Regions from separate parts of the Homo sapiens genome. Here region 1 is linked to region 2. Evidence: fine-mapped expression QTL. A gene starts in region 2. The other region holds a variant in brackets. All regions are shown on one strand. Distances are from middle to middle.

The links.
Region 1: its variant is fine-mapped to the expression of BAG3 in sigmoid colon (GTEx, PIP 0.95).

Annotation. Positions count from the first base shown.
Region 1 is chr10:119,676,287-119,691,430 of GRCh38, reverse strand. BAG3 (BAG cochaperone 3) reads right to left here. Exons shown (of 4, transcript NM_004281.4): 4 at 13,612-14,967. The coding sequence ends at 14,149. LOC124902513 (a long non-coding RNA gene) reads left to right here and starts at 8,760. Exons shown (of 2, transcript XR_007062312.1): 1 at 8,760-9,120; 2 at 9,693-10,281. It also overlaps the pseudogene TXNP1. RefSeq lists enhancers at 2,922-3,858, 3,859-4,795 and a silencer at 7,545-7,724. The variant C/T (reference allele first, on the strand shown) is at 11,669.
Region 2 is chr10:119,643,819-119,658,962 of GRCh38, reverse strand. It overlaps BAG3 (BAG cochaperone 3), which reads right to left and starts at 7,583. Exons shown (of 4, transcript NM_004281.4): 1 at 7,108-7,583. The coding sequence starts at 7,287. RefSeq lists a silencer at 7,531-7,830 and enhancers at 8,031-8,110, 7,491-8,445.

The DNA.
Region 1 (15,144 bases), 32 kb before region 2:
ACACTCTATGCCCCAGCTCCTCCAGACAGCTCACTGTAGAACGGCTCCCCATTCCTTTTCAATCTGCCCTACTAAAGATCCCTGACCAATTTGCGGAGAAGGACTGAGTCTTGTTCGTCGAGGTACATTGAACTCCTAGCACAGTGCCAGGTATAGAGTAGGCATTCAGTAATACCTGTGGGATACAATTTTCCCTGAATGCACTTCATGCTTTCACACTTGCAGGCTTTTGTTCACAATACTCCTGCTCCCCAGAAGATCCTCTTCCCGTTTCAGACTCTTAACTAGATTCCCCTTATCTGCTGTCTCTCTCTCTCTCTCCCCTCCAGCACCCGATTACTCTTCATCTTCTTAGCCTGTTGTGCTCTGTCCTGAGTTGCCCCAGCATACCGTATTCAAACTGCTGGTTTACTCGATTCACTGCCCTAACCCCCTTACCCCTATTAGGCCTGAAGACAATGGATAGGCTTTACCCATCTTTATATTCCAGTCTTAAACTCACTGTGTTTCTTTTTCTTTTCTTTTTTTTTTTTTTTGAGTCAGGGTCTCACTCTATGACCCAGGCTGTGGAGTGCAGTGGCACAATCATGGCTCACTGCTGCAGCCTCGAACTCCTGGGCTCAAGTGATCCTCTCACCTCAGGATCACTGACAAGGTCGCACCACGTTTCCCAGGTTGGTCTCCTAGGCTCAAGCAACCCTCCCGACTTGCCCTCCCAAAGTGCCGGGATTACAGGCAAGAGCCACCGTGCCTGGCCTACTCTCTGTTCTTAGCAACAATTAGAATAATGTCTGCCGTATAGTAGGTATCAATATACCTGTGTAATCCAGGTAGGACAGGCTCCTCTTCTGTATCCTGGAGTACTTCTTGCTAAAATACAGTGAGGAGAGATGAGACAGGAATTAAATATTCAGTCTTACTGTCTCTCAATTTTGAAACTGCCTCAGACCATAGGACTCTCTAAGTTTAGTGACACCTGGTAGCACCTCCATGGCAGGGGTGGAGGGCTGCAGCTCTGCTGGAGACACTCTCCCAGTTGATCAGAATGTGCTTACCACCCTTTTGGCCGCCTCACTAGTCTTTGCCAACCCAAACCCCACTGGCTGCTACGGAGTCCACAATGAAAGGGGTCCCCAAGAGAGTATTCTTGGATCTCACGCAAGAAATAATTCAGGGTGAGTCTGCAGAGTAAAGTGAAAGCAAGTATATTAAGACAGTAAAGAATATAAGAATGGCTACTGTGGCCAGGCGCCTGTAATCCCAGCACTTTGGGAGGCCAAGGCGGGAGAATCATGAGGTCAGGAGTTCGAGACCAGCCTGACCAACATGGTGAAACCCCATCTCTACTAAAAATACAAAAATTAACCATGTGTGGTGGCGCACGCCTGTAATCCCAGCTACTCAGGAGGCTGAGGCAGGAGAATCGCTTGAACCCAGGAGGCAGAGGTTGCAGTGAACTGAGATCGCGCTACTGCACTCCAGCCTGTGTGACAGAGTGAGACTCTGTCTCAAAAAAAAAAAAAAAAAGAAAGAAAAGAAAAGAAAACAAAGGCCGGGCATGGTGGCTCACGTCTGTAATCCCAGCACTCTGGGAAGCTGAGATGGGCAGATCACCTGAGATCAGGAGTTCGAGACCAGCCTGACCAGTATGGTGAAACCCTGTCTCTACTAAAAGTACAAAAATTAGCAGGGCGTGGTGGCGCGCGCCTGTAGACCCAGCTACTCAGAAGGCTGAAACAGGAGAATTGCCTGAACCCCAGGGGGGCGGAGGTTGCAGTGAGCCAAGATCATGCCACTACACTATAGCCTGGGTGACAGAGCAAGACTCCATCTCAAAAAAAAAAAAAAAAAAAATAGCTACTGCAAAGACAGAGCAGCCCCAAGGGCTGCTGGTTGCTCATTTTTATGGTTATTTCTTGATTATATGCTAAACAAGGGGTGGATTCTTCATGCCTCCCCTTTTGAGACCAAATAGGGTAACTTTCTGATGTTGCCATGGCATTGGTAAACTGTCATGGTGCTGGCGGGAGTGTAGCAGTGAGGTCACTCTCATTGCCATCTTGGTTTTGGTGGGTTTTGGCCAGCTTCTTTACTGCAGGCTGTTTTATTAGCAAGGTCTTTGTGACCTGTATCTTGTGCTGACCTCCTATCTCATCGTGTGACTTAGAATGCCTAACCTTCTGGGAATGCAGTGCAGTAGGTTTCAGTCTCATTTTACCCAGCTCCTATTCAAGGTGAAGTTGCTCTGGTTCACATGCCTCCGGCAGACTGGAGGTACAGATAGATTTCACAGAGCAGCCAGTATAGTCTGGATGAAGGAACAAAGGAAACGACACAGTTCCCTTGTACCGTTCATGCGGAAAAGGTCTTATAGAATTAAGCCTCCAGAAAGAGGGGGCCCACAAAGACCCTCCTTTTCTCTCCATTTCTCCATCTGCGCTCAATACCCCCCTTCCTGCCAACCCCTCTTTCACGCACCCAGACCTGATACCTTTCTCTTTTCCTCCAGATACTTCTCTCCGTAGTTTACCCTGTTACCCTAACCTTGTTGATTTTTTTTTTCTGCTTAGTCCATCATTTTCTCAGAAATGTGTCTTAACATCTCCCACTATGATTGTGGATTTGTCTATTTCTCTTTTTAGTTCTGTCAACTTTGTTATGTATTTTAAAGCTTTGTTCTTTATTAAGTGCTGCATATCATGTATGAAAAATTACAGATATAATTTGAGGCCCTAGATGATAGTAAGATTTATTTTTGCTTCTGGAAGGCAGTTGGGGTCTGGGCAGGCACCCTTAATCCAGTGGTTTTCAACCACAGGTGATTTTCCCCACCAGGGGACATTTGGCAATGTCTGGAGAAAGTTTGGTTGTCAGAATTTGGGGAAGGAGAGGTGCTACTGGCATCCAGTGGTTAAAAGCCAGGAATACTAAACATTGCATAGGATGGTCCACTGATAATGTCAATTTATCAGTGTCAATAGCACTGAGGTTGCGAAAGCTTGCCCTAATCCAATTATCAGAGGCGTTTGAACCAAAGTAACTCCATCTTGAGTAGGGGCTGCGTAAAATAAGGCTGAGACCTGCTGGGCTGCATTCCTAGAAGGTTAGGCAATCTAAGTCATGGGATGAGATAGGAGGTCAGCAGAAGATACAGGTCATAAAGACCTTGCTAATAAACCAGGTTGCAGTAAAGAAGCCGGCTAAAACCCACCAAAGCCAAGATAGTGACAACAGTGACCTCTGGTTGTCATCACTGCCACACTCCACTTGCACCATGACAGTTTACAAATGCCATAACAACATCAGGAAGTTACCCTATATGGTCTCAAAAGGGGAGGCATGAATAATCCACCCTTTGTTTAGCATATCATCAAGAGATAACCATAAAAATGGGCAACCGGCAGCCCTCGGGGCTGCTGTGCCTATGGGGTAGCCATTCTTTTATTCCTTTACTTTCCTGATAAACTTGCTTTCACTTTACTCTATGGACTCACCCTGAATTCCTTCTTGCTCCAGATCCAAGAACCTTCTCTTGTGGTCTGGATCAAGACCCCTTTCCTGTAACACAGTCAAACGGTAAGCCAATGGGAAGCTGGGTTTCAGTCTTTGTGAGAGTTTCTCTATTTTCATTCCTGTTCCTTCCAAAGGGTGAGGCCCTTTGGAAGTTGAAAGCTGGCGGCGACTACTTGAGCTCTTCCTTCCTTAGCATGAGACTGCTGGGAGCTTCTCTGCCTCATGAAATAGGCAAATGCCTCAAAATTCAAAGCTCTGCTAACCCTTCTCTCCAGGACCTTGACCCTCAAATCCTCACCCCCTTGGCGGCTCACCTTCAGATAGGTCTTGTTTGTTTTGCCAGCTTTTCTAGCTGCTCCGGATAGGAGGACTGATCTGCCAATCTGCCTTTAGGGGAAACAGCAAGAGATTGCCTCTCAGTCTTTTCTTGAAGCTTTCAAATGCAGGCTTTAGGCCTATTGTGATGCTAATGGATCTCCTCTGCCCTTACTTTGCCCATTCTGCATGGAGGGGGCAGCTCTAGTCCCCCAAGCATGAAAGAAGTTGGGTACTCCCGGTTCTGATCATTACTGCCACCAGGAAGAGCTACGGGGTGAGAGGGGGGATGGATTTCTCCCTAGTTATGTAAGAAACAAGCAGGTCTCACCCTTCATTTTTCCTTTCTCATACAAGGTGAAATACTGCAGTCTCATACGAGGAAGCATGTTTTTCCTGTTAACATTATTTCGATCCTGGTCCTTAGGGAAAAATAAGCCCGGCATTAAAGTGCGGGGAGCACTCACCTTCCCCCACCCCACAGTCTGGCTTATAGTGCTAGAACACCAACCAAGTGGTGACTGGGCCGGACCACAAATGGATGCGGATGCGGTCAGCTCCCGTTATGAGGATAGAATTCTAATCAGATTGTGGATCCGATTACTTCTGACTCATAAATCTCCCTGACTTTAGAAAACAGGGATATCTTATTTATTGGAGGAATGACAGTGTGAACAGAGGCGTGGCTGCGTTCTCACCAGCTGAGATAAACGCCGACCAGACCAGCACAGACATCCTGTGCTCGTTTCCTTTACTTGGTTTTTCAAATAAAGCCTTTGTGTGTCACTGGTATTGTGAGGAATACGAAATAATGAAAGAAGTGATTCTTCAGGTGAGTCATTCTATTATAAAATGGAGCCCACCGTCAGGAACTGCTCCCTGAGAGAGCAGGACAGGATTTCCCTGCGCGGGGAGTGAAAGCAGAAGGCGCAGTCACGACGCGCCCCCTACTGGTCAGCGAGGAGAAATCCCTCACCTCAGGTTTCAATTAGTGCGGGTGAGTCCTGAATTAGGAACCTCAGACCTGAGGCCTGGTGTGGTGGCTCACACCTGTAGCCCCAGCACTTTGGGAGGCCGAGGCAGGTGGATCACTTGAGGCCAGGAGTTTGAGACCAGCCTGGCCAATATGGTGAAACCCCGTCTCAGGTAAAATAACAAAAATCAGCTTGACGTCGTGGCACACACCTGTATACCAGCTACTCAGGAGGCTGAGGCAGGAGAATCGCTTGAACCCGGGAGGCGGAGGTGCAGTGAGCCGAGATGGCGCCATGGCACTCCAAAGAATCACAGAACTGGCCAGGCACGGTGGCTCACGCCTGTAATCCCAGCACTTTGGGAGGCCGAGGTGGGAGGATCACCTGAGGTCAGGAGTTCGAGGCCGGCCTGGCCAAAATGGCGAAACCCCCCTCTCTACCGAAAAATGCGAAAAGTAGCCGGGCATGGTGGTGCCCAACTACTGGGGAAGCTGAGGCAAGAGAATTGCTTGAGCCAGGGAGGCCAACGGAGGTTGCAGTGAGCTTAAGTCGTGCCACTGCACTCCAGACTGGGTGACAGAGAGGAACCTTGTCTCAAAAAAAAAAAAAAAAAAAAAAAAGAAAGAAATATTACTGAGAATCACAGAACTGAAGTGGAATTCCATGAATCCAATGGAATTACATTAAATTCCATGAGTAGGAATCCAATTCCATGAATGAAATTTCATGAATCCAATGGGATTCATGGAATTGCTGACACACAGTGAGATACTAAGGAGGCTAGGAGGCTAAGATGAAGAGCCCCTGTCTCAGGACTCCAGGGCCTAATTTAACAGCCACAATCTGCCAAGGTCAGAGGTAGCCTTAACGTGTACTGTACTCATAAATCAATCTCCCTGGAGATTTCAAACCTTCAAATTGCTTTGGTAAAGCCTTAACTCCTTTCAACCTGAGGAAGTCGATTGAAGAAAAAAGCCTTAGCTCTAAAGAAAGATTTTGAGTTTCTCATTCCAGTGGACCACAAAAAAATAAAAAAGAAAGAAAGAAAAATCGCATTTGTGCAAAATCAACCATTTACATTTTATACTAATCAGTAAGTTATTCTTGGGCCTCGTGCTTGTTTGTAAACACATGCCTTCTCTCTTTCATTCTAACTGGAAACTTTATCCTTAAATCTGTTCGTGCAATAATTATGAAATGTAATTTTATTTTTAAACAATATATTTTCTTTTGTTTGTTAATTTCTTACTTTTTTTTTTTTTTAGACAGAGTCTATGTTGCCCAGGCTGCAGTGCAGTGGCGTGATCTCGGCTCACTGCAACCTCTGCTTCCTGGGTTCAAGCTATTCTCCAGCCTCAGCCCCCCAAGTAGCCGGGATTACAGGCATGCGCCATGACGCCCGGCTAATTTTTTTTGTATTTTTGGTAGAGACGGGGTTTCGCCATGTTGTCCAGGTTGGTCTCAAACTCCTGGCCTCAAGTGATCCACCTGCCTTGGCCTCCCAAAGTGCTGAGATTACCGGCGTGAGCCACCATGCACAGACTCTTTTGTTAATTTCTTTAATTTTTAAATTTCTATTGATATATTATAGTTGTTCTTATCCTGAAGATATTTTGATACATGTATAAATGCATAGGATCAAATCAGGGTAGCTATCGATCGCCTCTATGTATTTTCTTGTATCTTGATCGTTAGAGTGAAATATAAGGAACAAAAAACAAACATGGAGAAGTTACCATGTTTTTAGTATTTTTAAATCCTAAGGGTTTGAAAGGTATATATTTGGGATAATGGGCCTTTTTGTCTTTTTTTGTCTGAAGGAAATTTGTGACCCAATAATTAGTCAAAATTATCTCCAAAAAATGTTAATGAAACTGGGCACCTTTTGGGAGACATTTTTAAATTATGTCAGCTACTTCAGTGTCAGAGGGTGGACAGAGTTGGCTGAGAACAGTCACATTTAGACAAGAGTCTTGTGTGTACTCTTTTGGTTATGAAAATGTAGGGCAAGTAAGCACTCATTGCCCTGAGTGAAAAGTGACATAAACATTTTTTTAAAGGGTTCATGAAGCCTGTCCCTCCCTTAATACCTCTTGATGGGAAAATTTCATTGTCAGGCTGGGGCTCACACCTGCAATCCCGGCACATTGGGAGGCCAAGGCAGGCAGATCATCTGAGGTCAGGAGTTCGACACCAGCCTGGGCAACGTGGTGAAACCTGGTCTCTACTAAAATTACAAACATTAGCCGGGCATGGTGTCGGGTGCCTGTAATCCCAGCTACTTGGGAGGTTAAGATGGGAGAATCACTTGAACCAGGGAGGTGGAGGTTGCTGTGAGCAGAGATTGCGCCACTGCACTCCAACCTGGGCAATAAGAGTGAAATTCCATCTTAAAAAAAAAAATTAAAAATTGAGAGATTTCACAGGAACAAATTTCTGGTCTTTCTGGAAAATTGGAAATCTCTTGTAACGCTGGACCAATGCCCCACATGACAATTGCTGCGTGGGGCCAAGCATCAGTCCCTGGCTCTGCCCCCAGACTACATCCAACTTGTGACAGCTTGGCTCTGTCAATCCTCCACCTGGCTGGCCTCTGTGAACTGTGGGATCGCACCTTGTGGAAGGCTTGTGCTGGGATAGAGCTGACTCAGTGCTGGGGGATCCCTGAGGGGACCCCAGGATTTGAATTCCAGGTTCCTAGAGGATATCAGCTGAATGCTCACCTTTCTGTGTGCCCTGTAGGCATAGATAAGTTTGGCATTCAGGAGAAAGAGGGTACCAGAGCTCCAAGCTCGATCCGGCACTTTTGGATCCGTTTCCATCGGTTCTTACAGCTGCTCCTCAGACCCTAGCAGCCAAGATGGTGAAGCAAATTGAGAGCAAGGTTGCTTTTCAGGAAGGCTTGGAGGCTGCAGGTGATAAATTTGTCATGGTTGACTTCTCAGCCACGTGGTATGGGCCTTGCAAAAAGATCAAGCTTTTCTTTCATTCCCTCTCTGAAAAGTATTCCAACATGGTATTCTTTGAAGTACATGTGGCTGACTGTCAGGATGTTGCTTCAGAATGTGAAGTCAAATGCATGCCAACCTTCCAGTTTTTTTTTGTTGTTTGTTTGTTTGTTTGTTTTTGAGATGGATTTTTCCTCTTGTCCCCCAGGCTGGAGTGCAATGGCAAAATCTCAGCTCACAGCAACCGCCATCTCGCAGGTTCAAGTGATTCTCCTGCCTCAGCCTCCCGAGTAGCTGGGGTTATAGGCATGCGCCACCAGGCCTGGCTAATTTTTGTATTTTTAGTAGAGACGGGGTTTCTCCATGTTGGTCAGGCTGGTGTCGAACTCCTGACCTCAGGTGATCCACCCGCCTCAGCCTCCCAAAGTGCTGGGATTACAGGTGTGAGCCACCGTGCCTGGCCCTTTCCAGTTCTTTAAGAAGGGACAAAAGTGGGTGAATTTTCTGGAGCTAATAAGGAAAAGCTTGAAGCCACCATTAATGAATTAGTCTAATCATGGTTTCTGAAAACATAACCAGCCATTGGCTATTTAAAACTTGTAATTATTTTTATTTACATAAAGTATAAAGTATGGAGACTATAAACCCAACTGCCATCTGGATGACAACAAAATATGAATTCTACTCTTTTTTAAAAAAAAAAAAAAGAAGAAAGAAAAAAAGAGGGTATCAGAAACAGACCCAGAGATGACTGGGGTCTGGGAGGAGGAAGCTGGAGAACCGGTGAGTGTGAACAGTATGCATCAGTCAGGGTTCGCCAGAGAAACAAAATACACATATACAGCGCTTGTGTGGTGGGGATGTGTATGTGTGTGTGGGTTTAATTTTTATTATAAATAGAGATGGGGTTTTGCCATGTTTCCCAAGCTTGTCTTGAACTCCTGGGCTCAAGCAATCCACCCTCCCCAGTCTCCCAAAGTGCTGGGATTACAGGCATGAGCCACCGCACCCAGCCATGTGTGTATTTTTTTTTTTTTTAAGGATTTGGCTCACATGATTGTGGGGACAGACAAGTTGGAAAGCTGTAGGGCAGGGCAAGTCAGGGCAGGGCAGCAGGCTAGAAACTCAGCCAGGGCAGATGCTGTAGTCTTGAGGCAGAATTTCTTCTCCTCCGGGAGAAATCAACCGATGGTAGATGTTAACCAAGTCTGTAGAATATCTACTCAGCAGCATCTAGTGCTGGAGTTAAATAGCTGGGTGCTATGGTCCAGCCAAGGTGCCGCCTGAAACACCCTCACATGGTGGGAAGAGCGGTGGTTGAAGAAGGAACCCTGGAGACCTTGATGTTGAAGAGAGGGCAAGGGAAGAGGGTGAGTCAGAGCCTGCTGGGGAGGAGAGCTGGAGACATTGCATAACACCAGTGACAGTGTGCCCACAGAAGTGGTTTCGGTAGGGGTGGGTGCAGGAATGGATGGCTGTAGGTGGATCAGGACGTGGGAGGTGAGGGGACTTAGCTGGCTCTTCCACGACATGTGATCAGAAAGTGGGGGTGGTGAGCTGGGGGTGGTGACCCGGGCACGATGGCTCATGACTGTAATCCCAGCACTTTGGGAAGCCAAAGCAGGTGGATCACTTGAGGTCAGGAGTTCAAGACCAGCCTGGCCAACATGGTGAAACCCCTTCTCTACTAAAAATAGATTTTTTTTTTTTAATTTAGCTGGGTGTGTGGCACATGTCTGTAATTCCAGCTACTCGGGAGGCTGAGGTGGGAGAACTGCTTGAACTTCGGAAGCAGAGGTTGCAGTGAGCCAAAATTGCACTACTTCACTCCAGCCTGGGCAACAGAGCAATACTCTGTCTCAAAAAGAAAAAGAAAAAGAAAAGTGGGGGCAGGGGGTAAAGTGAGGAGGAAGCATTTCTTTTTGGTTTGTGTTTTCTGTAGGCTAAGGACAAGAAAAGAGCCATTGGAGAGAGAAAGAGATGAAGTGGAAGACAGTGAGTGAGGGGCTGGCAGAAGGATTTCCCCTCTTCAAACTAGAGGAGAACTTCCTCAGCCTCCATGCAGCCGGCCAGATCCTAGGGCAAAGCTCTGGCTAGAGAAGGCAAGGACAGGCAAGAAAATGTTTTAGAAAAAGACCCTTTCCATCTGGAATGCTTTTTCCAACTCCCTTCACACCTTCAGGCTGGCTTCTAGTTGCACCAGGAACTCTGGGCCCACGTGTGAGGTGCGGGGGCAACACTGTCCATCGAGAGGACCTGTGGCTGCCTCCTCATCCCTTCCACCAAGCGCAGGATGGCACCATTGCTGGCTTCTGCTGCCCTCTGTTGTGGTCCTGTACCTCCTCACCTGCTCAGATGCTCCGCGGGGACTGATGGAGCTCTTCCTGGTCTCCAGTGGTTCTTACTGGGTAGTGCTGGACAACAGAGTACCAGGAAGGCAGGGACCTGGCCAAGCGCACATACGCATGAGTGGAGGAAATTTTACAATTTTTAGGAAGCAACAAAGTATAAAGTGGGAATTGCACATCTTCCTTACGTTTCTTTTGTTGTTTTTATTTTGAATTACGTATTGAGGGAAGCGCTACAATTTTTTCCATAGGTGGGTGTCTAGGGCTTCCCCAGCCCCGCTCTCAGCCCTCTGCACTCACACTTTTCAGAGCCACAGGATGTGTAAGGGCACCGGAATCACCAAGGGTGGGTGTGCCTGCTGGAGCTTTTTTTGTGCTGCCTGAAAGTTCAAAACACGCTGGAACAGGGAAAGAAAGGTATTTGCCCAAGTGACTAAGACATGTTCCAGCGTTTTCCCACAGGCTCCTGCACATCCCAAAATAACTGCAACCCTGGATCCTGTCCGTTGGCATTCGATTACATTTGTATAATGTTACAGACAGTGGGCAGGCCGGCCAGCCACACTCACACAGGGGCTTGCAGGACCGCACAGCCCATAATGGAGCTCCACGCTATGCTTCCTGGCTAGGCTGCTAAGGGAGAAATACCAAGGCAGAGACCACAACAGTAGCCAAGTGCAGACCTGCCAGAAACATCCAGATCACCAAGAGGGCCCTTGGGCAAGGCCCTCCTTTCACAGATGAGAGCAAAGGGCACAGAGAGAGGAAATTACTTACATAAATTAACTTAAATAAATTACATATCTGGGAATTATGAAAGTTGGTGAAAGAGTTGGCCCTCAACTCACAGCTCCTAAAGAGGTATTTATTTGTGCAGGAACATCAATTTAGCCTTAGAATCCTAACATCTTAAGTGGAAGGGACTTTTAAGCACTCCCTGACCATCCAGGGTGCTTCTGTGCCCAGGTCTGGACAACAATGTGGGAAGAAGGAAGTGTCGGAATGAACCTGCCACCCCTCCGGGGATTCTGTCTTGCTGAGGAAATGACTCAGGATGTTGAGAAAACAACTGGGTTTTGGCAAATGCACAGAAGGGTGCTAGGAGCTTTGGGAAGGGAGAGTCTGAGAAGGAATGCGTGGTCCAGGTGGGGAAAGTTTCAACCCAAGGTGGGCCTCAGAGTGGGAAGATCTGGAGGCTGGGCATGGTGGCTCACAGCTGTAATCCCAGCACTTGGGAGGCCGAGGTGGGCAGATCACTTGAGGTCAGGAGTTCAAGACTAGCCTAGCCTGGCCAACATGGCAAAAAACCATCTCTACTAAAAAATACAAAAATTAGCCGGGGTGACGCACACCTATAATCCCGGCTGCTCGGGAGGCTGAGACAGGACAATCGCTTGAACCCGGGAGGCAGAGGTTTCAGTGAGCTGAGATTGCATCACTGCACTCCAGCCTGGGCGACAGAGTAAGACTCCATCTCAAAAAAAAAAAAAAAAAAAAAATGGAGTCGGAAGATTTGGAAAAGCAGATAGAGAGGGCCTGAGCAGGCATCGCAGGAAATAGCCCTGACACT[C/T]GGTAGATGCTCAGTGGCTGTAGCCCCCCAATGCCTACAGGGGCCAAGACAGTTGTGTCACCAAGAGCGTACAGCTAGCTCTATGCCCTGCTCCCCACACAAGGCCCAGGGGCCACCAACACAGGCCAGATAACTCCCGTCCTGATGCCCACAGCATGTCTCATTTGGATGATTGAAAATATTCCAACCACATTAAACAGCTACTTATTTGATGATGTTTAGTGATAAAAATACTATCAACCTAATCCAGTAACCACTCAAGGAGGCTTAACGTCGTATGAGGTCCATTGAGTCCCAAAGAGAAGTGGTCACATCATCTTTGGTTCTTTTTTTTTTTTTTTTTGAGATCGAGTCTCACTCTGTTGCTCAGGCTGCAGTATAGTGGCGTGATCTCGGCTCATTGCAACATCTGCCTCCCAGGTACAAACAATTCTCGTGCCTCAGCCTCCCAAGTAGCTGGGAGTATAGGTGCATGCCACCACGCCCGGCTAATTTTTGTATTTTTAGTAGAGGTGGGGTTTCACCATGTTTGCCAGGCTGGTCTCGAACTCTTGACCTCAAGTAATCCACCCGCCTCGGCCTCCCAAAGTGCTGGGATTACGGGAATGAGCCACTGCACCCAGCCTGGTTCATTTTTAAAATAGTCTAGTATTTTTTTTTTTTTTTCCTATTTACATGTTCGAGTTTCTAGAATCAGTGGCATGTCGGCTTGTACTCCCCAAATGAGTTCACCCAGGAATGATGTTGGCAGATTCCCATGGGAATGACTTCAGCCTTCCTCAGCAGGCTAACAGTGGCAAGCACACCAGGGTGTATTTTTGTGCAGCATCGTCAGGCACCAGTATTAAACTCAATACAGTCATGAGAAATTCAGCTCGGGGGCTCTTAAGTCAGCACTTCACTGAGAGTTCCAAGGTCTCAGGCCTTTCTCTTTTCACTTTATTTGGCAAGTAGTTAAATAAATAAATAAAATAAAAATAAAAAATAAACAAATCCAGCACATCTCCATGCTGTGGGGCTGTGGTCCCTCCCAAGGTTAAAAAAAAAAAAAAAAAGCCACTGGCACAGCAAGAAGAATCTCCTTCTACCCAGGCCTGAGTGTATCTCGTCCCTAACTCCAGAGGCTTCTAGGAACCCAATCCAGGAAGATAAATCTGGTCTCAGTTTGGTTTGGTGACTCACAAGGTGTTAATAAAGATGACCCCAAGATTCTCAGAGCACATTTCCAACCCCCAGTGACCTAGACTCCAAGGAACACTTTGGCCAGCCTTGGGCAATAGTGGGAGCTGGCTTCCCTGTGCGCTTCCTTTTTTAATTTTTAGAGACAGGGTCTCAACTCTGTTGCCCAGGTTGGAGTGCAGTGGCGGGATCACAGCTCACGGCAGCCTCATCTCTTGGACTTAAACTATCTTCACGTCTCAGCATCCCTGGTAGCTTGGGACTGAAGACGCATGCCACCACCTGGCTGATTTGTTTTTTGTAGAGACAGGGTCTTGCTATGTTGCCCAGGCTGGTCTCAAACTCCTGGCCTCAAGGGATCCTCCTGCCTTGGCCTCCCAAAGTGCTGGGATAACAGGTGTGAGCCATTGCGCCAGGCCCTCTGGGCACTTTTGGACAATCTCAGCTTCTTGGTGAGGCCTGAGGACAGGTGGGCAGACATGCTACCTAACTGGCACCTTGGCTGTTGGCTGGGTCGGTCCGAACGGATGCAGCAGGCATGTTCCCATTACCGGAGTTCACAGCCCTGAGTCTTCCCAGGTTCCTGTTGCAATCTGAGACTGAAAGGTGACCAAGACAATTCTCTCTTGAGCCGGGCTATTGGAGACGTCACAAAACCCAAAGCAGGCTTGTTAAATGCACCTGTCATTTATTCTGACTGAAACCAGGGACAGACAATCTCCATGATGCCACTGCTTTCAAAGATTTAGAAACCACAAAAACCATTTTGAGTTATATTATTACTTTATTTTCTTTTTTTAAAATGTAGCATTAAAGTCATCCAACATACAGATATTCCTATGGCTCCTGGCACATTTTACTCTCTCTAAAGTCAGGTATTTTAATTATGAGATGAAGAAAATCATCTCATTAAAATGGCAACATTTCTGATAAATGTTTCATATTTATGTGATGGGTAATTGACTCCCCATCTACCCCTCCAGTCCAGAGCTACAAAAGACAGTGCACAACCACAGCTAACAGGTGGTGGGGGTGCCCAAGTAGACAGGGCTGCAGAACAACAAGCAACGGGGTTAAACTTCTCAAACAACAAGCAACTTCTTTATTTGTACAGAGTAAGAATATAGAAGAAAAGCATCATTTTCCTTTTTAGCCCTTTTATTAGTGTTTTGCCTCCACCCAAGTTACTGCATACCAAGCAGCTAATAAAAACCAACTGACTTAAAGTCTCTGAAATGCATGCAACTTAAAATTCCCTAAAGCACACATCGGTTCCGAGTCTGATTTTTACAGGGCAGAGGCTACGGTGCTGCTGGGTTACCAGGGGTGTCTGTCATGCTGCTGGGGTTTGAAGTCGCTGCTGCTGTGGCTTCTGGCTGCTGGGTTTCTGTGTGGGGATCTTCTGCATTTCCAGCATTTTTCTTGCCCTTGTCTGCTGCCACGGCACCCATCTCCATGATTGCCTGCAGTGGCTGATCTGCTTCAAGGTTGCTGGGCTGGAGTTCATAGACCTGGACTTGACCTGGGACATCAATGGCTTTCTGTTCAAGTTTTTCCAAGATGGTCTGAACCTTCCTGACACCGTCTCTCCTGGCCTGACGCACATCGGCTCGTCCCTCGGGGTCCACTGAATCCAGGGCCAGCAGCTCTTTGGTCAAATACTCTTCGATCATCAGGTACTTTTTGTCAGTCTTCTTGCCTTCAAAGTTGTCTACAGCCTGCTCCAGCCCCTGTACCTTCTCCAGGATGGCTTCCACTTTCAGCACTCCTGGATGTTTTGGGGGAGCCTCGGCTTCTCCTGGTTTTGGAGGTGTAGCTTCTGCAGGGGCAGTGCTGGGGGCTGCCCTCTCTTCTGTAGCCACACTCTTGGGGGAAGAGGGGACAGCAGAAGGGCCAGGGCTGGGAGGAGGACAAGGAACTGGAGCAGGGGGAACTTTCACCTCTACCTTCTCAGAGGGAGGTGGGGGCTTCTGGGAAACAGGTTTAGAATCCACCTCTTTGCGGATCACTTGAATTGGGATGTGTCCAGGAGGGAGTTCTGGTCCAACTGGGCCTGGCTTACTTTCTGGTTTGTTTTCAGGCTGGGAAACAGGTGCAGTTTCTCGATGGGTCATGGGCTGCTGAAAAAAGGACACAAAAATATATTTTTAATAACTGACTGAAAGTCACAGAAATTGTTTGTAGCTAGTACAGATTAGAAAGAAAACTGAGAAATGGCTTTTTAAAAAAAGTTTAATAGTATAAAAGATTTTCAAAGTCAATCAATGGCTGTTACAAAATAAAAACATGGTATTAAT
Region 2 (15,144 bases):
GACAGTCTGCTGTGTGGAGAGGCCACACACCTATCCACAAACACACTTCTACTCCACAGAGCAGGCTGCATATGTTTCCGGGAGTTCCACGCATGCATCAGTTCAGGCTTTGGGACGTTCGCCTCCCACACACCATCTTCCTTGATTCTCCCAACCCTGCTAACAGAAGTGTTGCTATGCCCACTTCACACAACGGGAGACTGAGGCTCAAGAAGGGTAAGTGCTTTGCCTAAGATCTCTAGAACCCAGGTTTGTCTGATGGTAAGGCCAGGTAGATGCTAACCTTTCTGCTACTCCTGTCACAGCTGTACACTGTGATAACATCCATGTGTCACTAACGTCTCCAAAACCTTCATCTCCCGGGGTAAAATGCAGCAGGAGAGGCAGCAGGAGAGAAAGGCTTCCATTTCGCCCAGCCACGCTCGGCTGAGGCTCAGACCTGGAACATTCAGTTCAAGTGTGCTCTGGGTCAGGGAGCCAGCGCTCCATGCTGAGTCATCAGGCCAGCCAGGCAGGGTACACGAGAGTGAGAGCACTCAGCTTAATTCTGAGTCACCACAGCCCCAAGACTGCAGGGACGCCCGGCATGGAGCGCTGTCAGAACCGGGGAAGACACCGTCCAACCCAGGAAGGAGTGCTAACCCCGCTGGGATGCTGGGGGTCTGAACTGACCCTGAAAGGGTGGGCCAGCGAAGGGGCTGGCTTTTCTTCTGCACATGAAGGGGCCTTCCCATCCTCCCACTGTATGAATTTTTAAACCATCCATTCATTTATTCATTCATTCAATGTCAAGGAAGAATTTTTTAAATAACTGAAAAAAATATATAATTCTACTTTAATAAACACTGAGGAAGATACTTTAAAACAGCAAACGTTTGTTCTCCAATTGAATGCTAAGGAATTTTCCGTAAAAAGTCTCCCCAGTTCACTGGGGCACAGCTCTGTGCTGGGAGCTCTTGGACAGCTGAGCTGTTTACAGGCTCCTGACGCACAGAGCTGGCACTCTGCGATTCTAGGCTTTTCTGAATTGACAGTGAATAAGAACCTTCACGTATACGGTGTCTGATCTTGCTGCCAGCCACACGAAAAAAAATTTTTAAGAGACTCTTTTCACAGTGCCAGGGGCTGCTCTCTGCACAGCTATGGAAGTAGGGTCTGGCTGCTGCCAGCTCCCAGCCTCTCCAGCCCTGCTGTAAGATGCTGTGTCATTGGGAGAAACAAAAAAGAGCTTCTCCAGACCTGTAAGGATGAACTTAGGGAATCAATACTGAAGTCCTTTGTGCAGAGAAGGCCATTCACAAAGTGACAAAAAGGAGCAGGCCTCTGGGGACCTTTAGGAGCCCAGGACAACTCTGCAGTTCTTAGGAACCAATGGAAGGCTTCCCGGGACACACCTGCATCCTTCACGGGCAGCTCTTCTGTATCTGCCTTCGCGCTCTGGGCAGGCCCATGTTCTACCCTTCTCCACAGTCACTCGTTCCATCTTTTCTGAGCCTGTGGACCCTGCCAGGCATCAAGAGGCAGCGATGAAGCACACAGACTCTGCCCCAGAACTCCTAACAGGGGTGTGACCCCAAGACAAAGCAGAAAAGTGCAGAGCTTAAGCAAAAAGATTCAAATTAAAATAATATGGGTTCCAGAAGAGAGACAGCCTGCTTCGGACCAGGGAGAGGCAGGACATGCTTTGTGGAGAACAGTCTCAAAGTGGGCAGACTTGTCCTCTATATGGCATTTAACACTGTGACTCGCACACTGTGGGCACTCAGTGAATTTCAGATGGGGTAAAGGAGTGAGTAAAGAGTCGGGCCCATCTCCTAAATCCAGACCCAGGTTCAAGAAACAGGCCAACATTTCTGATTAACTATACAAAGATGGACTCAGGGCTGTTTATCACCTCAAGCTGTGCCTGGGGAGTATAAAGCAGCCGTGCCTGGGGAGTATAAAGCAGCCAGGCCCGCTAAAGGCAAGTCTGTCTGTCACCCCTTCAGGAACTCAGATGGGGGTAAAGCCACAGAAGTCTTTCTGTTTATCACAGGCCAGGCACACTGCCTCTCCAAATCTGCTGTCCCATGTGTAAGACACTTCATAGTTTCTAGTTCAAAGAGCTGGTGAGGATTTAGAGATAAGGTTACCAAAAGCACCCACTCATATCTGGCACATATATATATATATGTGTGTGTGTTGACAGACAGAAAAATACTACATTCATTCCTCTCCCCCCAAATTCTTCCTAAGCTTTTGCAAGCTGCCTGGCTTCCTAAAAGGCTGCCAAGGTCCCAAAGATACCTTCATCGAAATACGTGACGACTTAGTAACACCAGATACCTCACATGGTATCACATGTGCCACATGATGCATACAGATGAATCCTGCACCTGCAAAACAAGGGGCTCTGGAGCCTGCCTCAGACGGCCGGCTGATGGGCATGGTGGCGCTCACCTATAATCCTAGCTACTTGGGAGGCTGAGGCAGGAGAATCGCTTGAACCCAGGAGACGGAGGTTGCAGTGAGCCAAGATCGCACTACGGCACCCCAGCCTGGGAGACAAAGTGCGACTCCGTCTCAAAAAAAAAAAAAAAAAAAAGAAGGCCAGCTGAGTCTATGCTCTGAGGCAGAAGCAGATCAGAGGTGTCTACTTGACTCACAACAAAAGGGAACCCAGGAGGGGCTGGAGAATAACACGGTCAAGTGTGACACAGGGTTCACTCGTGTTCGCCAGTGCCAGAGGGTCTCAAAGATCCTAATAAGCAAGGCCTTTGTCTTCAGTTTCTTCTGTAAGCTCTCTTAAACATTTAAGAGCAATATTAAAACAGCAAAACTTAAAGGAGAAAGAGTAGGTCTGGATGATGAATGGTTTTCTACTTTGGATGATAAACATCAGAACATCATTTTTAAATGTCAATAGAAAGTAATAAACATGTAGAGTGGTTTATATAAGGTGACTGTGTGTCATTCCAGAAACGAGGACAGCACTAAGCAAGCCTCATGGGTGGTATGAAGCTTTCTGACTCACAAGCAGCCCTGATAGCATCCAACAGTTAAGCCTTCCCAGCCCTGGCCAACGTCAAACGCTGCCGCAGGTCCTGTGTACAGGCTCCACCCTCATAAAGGGCAAATCTACCCTACAAAACGGGACAAATGATGTTCTCGGAGGTGCAGTCGGTTCTCATGTGAACAACACAGGCTGTTCTTCAGAGGGGAAAATGAAAGTCCTGGATGAGCTGGGCTCCAAGGCATCTGGCCATGCTGTTCATCTGCCCCCCAACAAATCACTTTCATGCAGTCGCACAGGAACTTGCTCAGCCACAACTGCAACTTGCTGGAAATACGAAGGAGAGAACGGCCACTCATTTCCTGATTGTGCTCCGCCTCTGCTAAGAGGCATAACAGCTTGCAATAGATCTGGAAAGAGCAAAACGATCTCATCTTTAAGAAAATTCAGGAGGCTCTGCTGAACCTTAAGCAAAATAAATGGGTCTCTCTACTTCAATCATAACTCGAAACATTTCCAGTGTTATCTGAAAGGATGTTTCTATCTCCCTGTCACAGTGCCTGAGTATAATCTGTTAAATGATTATGGTGAGATTCTGCCAGATGGGCAAGACAAAAAGAAAAGGCTCTGGCTTGCTTCTTCCTGGGGTCCAGGAAGATCTCTGGACCACCTCCCCACTCTCGCACTGCCAGCCACCCTGCCAGACTTTGCAAGGTGCTGTCTCGGCTCGCTTCCCATGTCATCCCCATATTCACACCTCCAGAAGCCCGCGTACCTGGGGAGTTTCCCCAAGAAGGAAAATGGAGGCTTGGGAAAATGCTCTGCAGGATAGATGTTCAGGAGGCACTAAGCCGCAGCTCCTCCTCCCCAAAATGGGATCACTGGCCATCCGTGGCTCCCACTGCCAGTGCAGCAGAATCAGAACCACCAAAAAAGCTTTCTGGACTTAATAGTTTTCTGGGCCCTACACTGAGCAATTCAGATTTGAACATGGGGTTGGGGCAGGGAGGCGATGAGACACAGCCACAATCTGTGTTCTTAACAGGACTCCCTGGAGAGTGCCAGACTGGTAACCCCCAAGATCCATGGAGCTAGAGCGGCCCTGCTCCATGAGGGAGGAAGGTCTCCCTCTCATCCCAAGGAGGCCTGGCGGGAACAGCACTCCAGAACATCCGGCCTCTGTTTATTCAGGGAGGAGCCTGGAGGAGTGGCTGCACCAGCACTGAATGCCATCCTCTGCCAGGAAAGGGCCTGGACTGGTATGAACTTGCCAAATTAGTGGGAAGCCCAAGTGTGCAGAAAATCAAAATCCAGGAAGACTGCAGGTGGGGAGGCCCAGCTGCTTAGAATGGGGCTGGATGAAGCCCAGCATCTTTGCCGGGAGCCGTCCTGCTTCAGCAATGACAGAAGATACTTGCTTTCGCTCTGCCCCTCTGTGAAAACAGGGAGTTGTCCTAACTACTTCAGGAGAAGGCGGAAGATCAACTGCAAGACGGCAGTAGAAGACGAAATAAAATACAAAGGTCTAGTCTTTTCTTTCCATTTTCTTACTAACGTGATTAAATTTTAAACATCCTGAAGCTGAGTCCTCCCCCAAAAGAGAGGTCGTCTCTTGAGCTCCTCATGCTCAATGAACAGCTTTTTACTGATTGACAGCATTTCCTCTTGAAGATGATGATGCTCAGACGGGCCTCAGCTCAGCTCCTCCAAAATCGCCCTTTGTTTTCTGCAAGGGCCTTTTTCTCATTATGCATTGAGAAGCCAATTTCAAATACAAAATGATATTCAAGGATTTTCCACTACATTTAGTCTCCAGTAAGGTGTAACTCACACAAGTGCAACCTGATATTGTGTGTGTCAAAGCACAGGATTGAAAGCAATGAAGCACAAACAGCTCATGGGCTGAATGTTAGTTTTCTCCTTAAGTTTTGGTGCCATGCTGACAAGTCTCAAGTCATTCACTTGGTAAAGGGAACTCTTTTCTTGAGTTCATCAGTCCCATCATCAAAATCCAAGCAACCTCAGCACAGAGGTCAGTGACCCAATAACTTGGTGGCCAGGAGGGCACAAAAATAATCAAGTATTCTAGCCTGCATGCCTCAGTTTCCCAAAACACTCACTTCCAACTTCTGAAGAGACACACTGCCTCTTATTAGGACTTTCCTGACACTAGTTCTCTCCCTGTTGTTGGTACTAGCTGGATGACCTTCAAAGTCACACCTGAACTCTCTGGGTTTCAGAAAATAAAGAAGCCTAACATAAGAGATCTTCAAGGACATTTCAACTTTAAAATTTTGACCGTGAAATTTTCAAATAAATCTTCCCAGCATCAGACTTCTGATTTAGTAGTTCTTTGTATTTGCTGACAAGAATAATGGTAACTAAACCTGCTTTTTTTCTTTTAATAAGGTTTATGAAATCACAGCCTAACCCATGCACCAGGTGGGTACAGGAAGATCTCAACTTGCTGGGTAAGTTTCATGCTGAGAACAAAGTGCTGGGAATGTTTATGTTCAAACTTGATCTTCACTCACAACAAAGGCTGCCAACAGATACCACTATCCCTATGTCTACAGGAAGAAGGCTTCAAAATAATAGTTGTAAACCACACTAAAGATCATGTACATCCACGCAGACTCCTAAGAAAGGTGGTTTGAAATGAGTGTCAGTTTCACCCAAAAATGGGTGGAACAGACACACAAAAAGGTATATGTAACTGTGCCCATCCCAGCTAATTACAGCCTCTTGTACTAATTTTCAAGAATAAATATACAACTAATCTCTCGTAAATGTAAACTGCTGCCTGTACACGGTCTCACTGCTGGGCACCGGAGTTTTATCAATATTGTTAAAACAAAAAGTGCATAAAGATGAAGGGAAATAATACAGGTCTTTCTTCTAAAACAATGGGTTACACAGCAGTTTTAATTTGGTGAGTTTTTAAATCTTCAAAATAATTTACCAGCTCTTTGCTGCTTTTATCTTGCCCAGACGGCGTTAACAATTCAGCTTTAAGTATAACATATTTATTTTAAAAACTTTTTATCCTGAAAGCTCAAATTTATAAAAAATTGAAAGAATAGTATAACTAACTCTGATTTTTGAAAATTAACACACTCATTCCAAATTTACATTTTCAAATTTCATGCTCTTGGGGATTAAGAAGTATATATCCTTGCATGTATGTAAATGAGACATACTTCTGCTGTATTCACAAGAGTATCATTAGTCAGTTATTTGTGTACTGGTAACAAATCCTAAGTATTTTAATACCATAACAAGGCAGGAAGCGAATGCCATTATAAATATACACGTATCATTCTCTTTCTCTCCAGTGTGAGGCAATGTGGTAAGGCAATGGCCAACTGTAAGACAGTCTCAGATCTCTAGTCTAGATCTCTAGAAACTGCTGGGGAGAAGCACACCCTGTTTTTTATTTTACAAATCATACTAGGATACGTTCATATTGAAAGCACTTTCAAACAATAATACAATTTTAATTTAAAATACACACACACACATATATATATGAATGTTTTGACACCAGCCTCCAGAGTCATTGGGTGCCTAACATGGGACAGTAGCCAAGATACCCCTCAACCAAGTTGGAGAACTTGAGCGGTAAAATTCCCCCCAAAACCACCATCCAAGCTTGCGAGTGTCCCCCTCGAGTCCGCGGTCAGCAGGGTGCGCCGCGGGTCCCGGGCCCGGAGGCCGAGCGGGCAGCAGGGGCCACGGTGGGCCGGGGCCTCCGGAGCTGACCAGGCCGGCCGCCCCTCTCCCAGCCCTAGAGCGCGAGGCCAGCGCTGGACACCCGGCCTTCCGCCCTGGAGTCGAGCCGTGGACGGCACCGGAGCCACTGCGGGGTCGCTTCCCGGGCCACCGAATCCCGGGGCCTCCTTTCGCCCCGACGCCTGTCAAGGGCGGGTCCGGAGCGGGGACTCGTCCGGGCGCAGCGGGAGTGTGTGGCGGGGCGCGGAGCCGGTGTCCGCCCGCGAGGGGCCTTCGCCGACCCCCGGGCCCCGCCGCCTCGCGTCCCCCCGGCCCAGCCCACTCCCCGCCGCCTGCCGTCGAGGTGGCGCCACCGACCAGGGCGGGCCGCGGGCCCGGCTCACCTTGGGGCCCTCAGAGGGCACGCGCGGGTCGTTCCACGTAGTGGTGCGGCTGTTGTGGTCCACGAAGAAGGGCCAGCCGGTCTGCGGGTCGATCTTGATCTCCCATCCGGGGGGCAAAGGGTCGCGGTCACCGTTGCCGGACGCCACCTGCATCATGGGCGAGTGGGTGGCGGCGCTCATGCTGGGTTGGGGTCTGCCCGCTGGGGCGCGGGTGCGGGGCGCTGGCTCCGGGCGCCGAGTCTCTGGCCGGGCCGCCGCCGTGGGCCCCTCTCCGCCGCCGACGTGTCCGGGAAGCCGGCGCCGGGCACCTTTATGAATTAAAGGCGGGGGTGACGTGGCCAGAGAGGGGTGGAAGTGTCTGGAAATAGCCTCCTCGCTGCCAGAGGGGAAGGAGGAGATAAAGGGAGGTAGCAACTGGCCGGCTAGAAACTTCTGGTCCAGTCCAGAGAAGTTGGCCGCGGCCCGGGGTTGGATGCGGAGCTCCGCCCTGAGTCATCGGCTATAATCGCGGCGGGCGGGGCAGAGGAGCGGGGGCGGGGCCTCGGCCCGCTCGCCCCTCCCCCACCTCCTCCCGCCCCTCCCCCTTCCGACTCGTGCGCGTGCCCGGGCCGGAGTCGCCGCGGGCGGGCGCGGGCGCGGCTTCGGGGTCCGCCTGCGGGTGGGAAGCCGGACGAGCTGGACTGGGGCCGTCCTCCGTGCGCCCCGGGCGGGTTTCGGCTTTCATAGTCGCTCTCTCCCTCTCCTTTGCGCCGAGTGAGTGTTCCCGGGGCCGGAGCCCGTGCTCCCCGTGCCTGCCGCCCGTCCTTCCTGTACAAACAAAACCATCTCGCCCACCTCCACCCCCTCCCCCATATATGATAGCCGAGGACCCTGAGGGCTGTCCGGGAGGAGCGCGGGGACTCTCATCTGACACCGGAAGGAAGCCAGGGAGAAAATGGAAGTCAGTGCAAACTCACCTGCCTTCCTTTGGAAACTTCAAGAAAAAAAGAGATTGTATCAACTGATGGCTTTTAGTCTCCTAGACTAAAAAGAAAGTTTCGTTGCAGCTTTAAAGATAAATCACATTTTCTTGGGTCTGGATCTTTTTTATGGTAGAGATTGGTTCTTGCTATCTTATATCTTGACCCTGATTTGGGAAGTAAAGACCGAATAACCATGACATTTTTTGTTTGGTTTATTCAATTGCACTTGTAACCTGTCAAAGGAGAAAATTACAACACATTTAAAGATCTTTTTTGTTGTTGTTGTTGTTGATTTTCATTTTTTAACTTTTATTGTTAAAGATCTTATTTGTGATTCTAGAAATTGGGCAACATCTCCATTAAATTAGAATAAGTGCTCCCATGAGCTGAGCAGAAGAGGTTGGTTTTATAGACAGAGAAGGGCTGAAGAAAGCAGAAACAAAGAACCAAGACTGGATTGGTTGTTTCAAAATTACTTTCCTTGTAAGGAGGGGACAGAGAGACAGAATCATAGAAAAATAACTGATGAGGGCTTGCCACCATGGCTCATGCCTATAATGCCAGCACTTTGGAAAGTCAAGACTGGAGGACCTCTTGAGTCCAGGAGTTTGAGACCAGCCTGGACAACACAGTAAGACCCCCATCTCTGCATAAACAAAAAATAAGCCAGGTGCAGTGGCTTATGCCTGTAGTCCCAGCTACTCAGGAGGCTGAGGTGGGAGGCTCATTTGAGCCCAGGAGTTTGAAGCTGCCATGAGCTATGATTTTGCTCTTCATGCCAACCTAAGCGACAGAGCAAGACCCTATCTCTTTAAAAGAAAGAGAGAGAAAGAAAGAGAGAAATGATTGAGAGAAATGTAACATCAGGTTACATACTTCAGATTACTGTACAGTTGACCCTTAACATGGGTTTGAATTGAGCAGGTCCACTTGTACATGGATTTTTTTTCAATAAAAGTTACACCGATGTGCTTGCCTCTCCAGTCTCCCCTTCCACCTCCTCCACCTCTTCTGTCTCTGCCACCCCTTGACAGGAGAATCAACCCTTCCTCTTCCTTCCCCTCCTCAGCCTCCACGTGAAGATAATGAGGATGATGACGTTTATGATGATCACGTCCACTAAATGAGTAGTAAGTGTACTACTCTTCCTTATGTAAATGTAAAATCTCTTCCTTATGATTTTCTTAACATGTTCTTTTCTCTAGCTTACTTTATTGCACGAATACATATAATACATATACAACATATGTGTTAATTGACTGTTCATGTTATTGGCAAGGCTTTCCGTCAAGAGTAGGCTATTGGTAGTTTTGGGAGATTCAAAGTATGCAGGGGCGGGGCATGGTGGCTCACGCCTGTAATCCCAGCACTTTGGGAGGCCAAGCGGCGGATCACTTGAGATCAGAAATTTGAGACCAGCCTGGCCAACATGGTGAAACCCCAACTCTACTAAAAATACAAAAATTAGCTGGACGTGTGGCACATGCCTGTAATCCAGCTACTCGGGAGGCCGAGGCAGAACTGCTTGAACCCAGGAGGCGGAGGTTGCAGTGAGCCAAGATCATGCCACTGCACTCCAGCCTGGGCGACAGAGCCAGACTCCAGTTCAAAAACAAACAAACAAAAAAGTATGCAGGGATTTTCTTTTTTCCTTTCTTTTCTTATTTTATTTATTTTATTTATTTATTTTTTTGAGACAGGTTCTTGCTCTCTCTCCCAGACTGGAGTGCAGTGGGGCAATCTCAGCTCACTGTAACCTCTGCCTCCTGGGTTCAAGCGATTGTCCTGCCTCAGCCTCTTGAGTAGCTGGGATTACAGGTGTGCACCACCATGCCTGGCTAATTTTTGTATTTTTAGTAGAGACAGGGTTTTGCCATGTTGGCCAGGCTGGTCTCAAACTCCTGGTCTCAAGTGATCCACTCGTCTCCGTCTCCCAAAGTGCTGGGATTACAAGCATGAGCCACCTCGCCCAGCTTTGCAGGGATTTTCGACTGCACGGAGTTGGTGCCCCCAGCCACCTCCTGTCACTCCCCAACCCTCACCCCTCATTCGAAAGTAGCCTGTTTGGGAAATTAGACTATCACCTCTCCTGATTTCTCAGAAAGTCAGATAACAACTTGGTTTTGGTTTGGTGATGTGGAACTTTAGCATGAGTGACTCCTTTCTGATTTTTCGTCGGGTTTGTTAAGGCCAAATGCAGGAGCTTAGTCCAAAACAGTGACCTCTTATAACTTTTATTTAACAAACGTCAATGAGCACCCCAATTCCCCTGGGAAAGAGAGACTGTGTTCCAGAAAGAGAGAATGTTTGGGAGGTGACATTTTAGATCTTTAGACATACTGACTCATTCCCTTCCCCAGAAACGCTTTGAACTAATATTGGGCCTAGTTTTCAATTCGGAATCAGAGAATATCCTCGAACCCCAGTCAATACCTCTGCCCCTTCCTGCCCTCAGCTTACTCCTTCTGGAGAAAATGCCAGAGAGGCCTGCCTATCATTTCCAATGGAATGATTCTCACTTGTAAAAGTATGCTTATCCGCTTTGGAGTCCAGTAACTCCAGTGATGATCAGGCCCCAGGGACTGATGCAGGTCACCAAACATGTTAGAGACAGGTGTATAAACCCGAATGTCAGTGCACTAGTTTCCCATAGGAAATATTACTGTTGAAGGAACTAGACCCCCAAATTCACTAGTCAGTGTCTGCCTTATGCTTCCTTATGTCTGCAGCCCTGAACCCAGAGTCCATATTCAATAAATGTTGATGTTTATCGAAGATTGAATCCAGAGTGAAATTTTATTTCTATCTTCTTCCTTGCTCAATTTGCTTTCCACTACAGTTTAAGTAACTACAGTTTAAATAAACACAGAGGCTGGGTGTGGTGGTTCATGCCTGTAATCCCAGCACTTTGGGAGGCAGAGGTGGGGGGGATCACTTGAGGTCAGGAGTTTGAGACCAGCCTGGCCAACATAGTGAAACCCCGTCTCTACTAAAAATACAAAAATTAGTCGGGCATGATGGTGGGTGCCTGTAATCCCAGGTACTTGGGAGGCTGAGGCAGGAGAATCGCTGGAACCCGGGGAGCGGAGTTTGCAGTGAGCTGAGATCACGCCACTGCACTTCAGCCTGCGCAACAGAGGAAGACTCTGTCTCAATAAACAAACAAATACTGAAAGTGGTGTTGGCCATTTTTCCCCTGAAAGAAGCAGCAGGGAGGAAGCAGGTTACTCTGGGATTAACATAGCTGCTTCTGACAGTTGCTCTGGAGGCTAAAGCAGCTCCATCCTGGATGCTCATCTGCCATGTTCGTTTCTGATGAACCCGTTCCAGGAATGCCTCTAAGATTTCTATTTTCACATACTTACCCTTCGGTCAAAATAACGTTGGTGTTACTGTAAACACATACTTACTATAAATCCTGCCTGTGGCGAATTCCCTGTGGTATACAAGCCCTGGGACTTCAGGGTAACAGTGCAGGGACCCGCCATCTTGTCTTGCAGCCATCCAGGACATGGCTTGTGTTTGTAAGTCCCTATTAAGTGTTTCTCTCTGAGAAACTGGATTTGTCCACCTCTTTCTTCAGCTTCTCAGTTTCCTCAGCCTTTGAGGGTAGGTGTGCATAGACCTGCTCACCGCAGAAGAGTTATCCTCCGCTAGGGACTTCCGCAGGGTTTGTCTAAAACAGAGACACAAGTCTTGGAGAGCTGGCTGGAAGAAGCTGCTTTGAGCCACGTTGAATACTGAGCATCATGTCTGTCCTCGGTGGCTTTTTCTTTTCTCCAGGCCCTCAGACACTCCCTCTTTAGGCCTCCTGGAGTTCATCTGCCCAGATCAGAAGCTTAAGCATAACCCTAAATTTCTTTTGCCCCTCACCATTTAATTATCCTTTTTTTTTGAGACTTGCTCTGTCACCCAGGCTGGAGTGCAGTGGCGTGATCTCGGCTCACTGCAACTTCCGCCTCCCTGGCTCAGGCGATTCTCCTGCCTCAGCCTACCGAGTAGCTGGGATTATAGGCACCCGCCACCATGCCCAGCTAATTTTTGTATTTTTAGTAGAGACAGGGTTTCACCATGTTGGCCAGGCTGGTCTTGAACTCTTGACCTCAGGTGATCCTCCTGCCTTGGCCTCCCAAAATGCTGAGATTACAGATGTGAGCCACCGTGCCTGGCCCATTTAATTATCCTTAAATCTGTGGATTCCACTTCCTAGATATTCCTTGATTGTGAACTCCTGTCTGTCTTTAGTGCCACCAACCCGTCCAGGTTACCTTTGCCTGTCATCTGGATCTTGGCACGGCCTCCTGATGGATCTCCCAGACTCTAATCTTTGTGTGTGTGTGTGTGTATGTGTGTATGTGTGTGTGTCTGTGTGTGTGCGTAAGCAGTTGGTCACGTAAACCAGCCTCTAATCTTGTTCATCTCCAATTCGTTGCCCACATGGTAGCCAGAGCAATCTTTCAAGCACAAAACAGGCCTTGCCCCTTCTCTGCCTAGAATTCTTTAATGCCTCTCTGTTGACTCCACACTCCTTGGCTTGGTGTACACAAGACCTTCCTCCCCTCAGCCTGGTGTGCACTCTGGCTGGCCTTGCTGCACCATATCATGCAGGCACTGACACAGCCTGCCCTTGCCTCTGCCCACCCTGCTTCCTCCACCTGGAGAGCCCTTCTCTCCAACACCCAATGGCCTCCCGCTCTCTTTGCCTGGCTGACCCCCCTTCATCATCAGGTATTACCTGTGGCATCTCTCTTCTTCATCCTCCTGGTCTGAGTCATGTGTCCCTTCTATTATGGCAAAAACTGTGATTACTTTTGCACCAACCCAATAGGTGCTCTGCAGAAAGTAAAAAGTTTCCTCTTCGAAGCTTCCCTTCTTGTTAAAGAATAAATCATAAATGTTAAAAATAATAGTTTCTTTTAAAGACTAAACTTCCTTCAAGCCTCCTTGCTTTGTGCTAGTAACTCTTTGTTAAGCCTTGTCCTATGTAGCTGTTAGATATAAAAGAATAAGTACAGTTGGCCAGGCACGGTGGCTCACACCTGTAATCCTAGCACTTTGGGAGGCTGAGGCAGGTGGATCATGAGGTCAGAAGATCGAGACCATCCTGGCTAACACAGTGAAACCCCGTCTCTACTAAAAAAATACAAAAAAAAAAAAAAATTAGCTGGGCGTGGTGGCCGTCGCCTGTAGTCCCAGCTACTCGAGAGGCTGAGGCAGGAGAATGGCGTGAACCCGGGAGGCGGAGCTTGCAGTGCGCTGAGATCACACCACTGCACTCCACACTCCAGCCTGGGAGACAGAGCGAGACGCCGTCTCAAAAAAAAAAAAAAAGAATAAGTACAGTCTATGTCCTTGTACTTTAACCAAGATATTTGTACTAGACGTGCTCACAGGCACATTCCAGCTTGCAGCCTGTGCCCCTTCCTTATTTAAAAATATTATTACTTTTCTAAGTCCTTTCGCAAGCAACTTCCTCTTTTCCTTTGTTCTCTGTTGCTTTTACCTATTTAAGAAAGTTTTAAATTATTAGCAAGTCGGATTTAATTTAGACTGTGAGGTCCCGCTCCAGCCAATAGAGACAGGACACAGTAGCAGAGACAAACTGCATAAAGGATAAAAATTACTTCCCTTCTTTGTTCAAGTGTGCTCTTGCTATTGTTCCATCTGCAAGGAGCACCCTTTCTGCAGAAAGTAAAATTGCCTTGCTAAAAAAAATTTTTTGTCTAAATGCTAATTTTTCCTTGCCGTACCAAGGAACAAGCACTCTGTTTCTAAATAAACATTTTCCTTATAACATGCTCCCTTATACATCCCATGCCACCCTGTCAATTGCACTGAATTGCAATTGCTTGTCTGATGGTCTAATGTGTCCATGGATTGAGTTTCATGAGGGCAGGAGCAGACTTGTCAATCACCACTGGGTCCCCAGCCTCTAGCATGGTGCCTGACAGACAGTAGTTACTAAAGCAACAATAGTTGTAATGGCTACCATTTATTGAACATTTACTGCATGCCAGGTACTGTGTGAACGGCTTTGTGTGGATTACTGCATTTAATTTTTATGGGAGAAGCTGTGATGCGTGCTGCCCAGATCCACTTTCAGGGATGAGGGACTTATTCCACCTACTGTTGGGGATGCTGTAGGAAGCTGAATCTCAGCTACCTATGGGGACTGATGCAGCTGAAGAAAACTGCCTCGCCCAAGGTCACACGTCCCTCCAGGGACAACCTGCATCTAGTGACTGATTTATTGAGGGGCTTAGAGGCCCAGCCCCTTCGGTCCAACTCAGGATAGGGCTAACGGGCTACCCCGGCTCCAGAGCGCCCTCTGGGGTTGACTGCTGCTTTCTTTGGGACTGCATCACAGCTCAGCTTCTCCCTCTGCACAGTCCTGCTTCCTGTGTTGCTCCTAGGAGAATTCCGTAATAAAGTCCAGCTTGCTACCTCTCATAGTCAGCTTCCTGAGGAACCAAGCCTGGAACAATCCTCTCAGCAGCCTTCTGGGTAGGCGTTATTATGATTCTCCTTTTACAGATGAAGCAACTAAGGTTTGGAGACGTTAACACAAGGCTCTTGATTTGTGGAGGCGGGATTTGAATTGTGGCAATTGACGCCGGATCCCACGCTATTAACCAGGAGCTCAAACATAAGTGAATCAACGGCTTAGTCCCACTTGTCACCAAGGGAAAAAATGTAAAAAGCTAGAATTGAGAAACAACGTTTTGTGCGAATGATTTTTTCTCAATGCTGAGGAAACAGGAGCCGTAGCTGGCTGCTGTGGAAGATTATAAATCAGCCCTATTAATGCTGTGCCCAGGCCTGACTGACTCATAGCACAGGTCACAGACAGAGGACTCAAGCCCAGCTATAATGGTGAGTTTTAAATGAAAATGTCAACCACAAGATTTCAGCGTCTGGGTGATTTAATCCATTTCTATTGGAACACAAGAGCCAGCATAGGAGAACAGCCAGTTCTCCCTGATCGGTGCAAAATGCTGGTCATCCCAGGTCGTTTTTTTTGCTTTTGGGATGTTGTGAGAGATCGGCACGTGCAGCCATGCACACCTTCACTAGC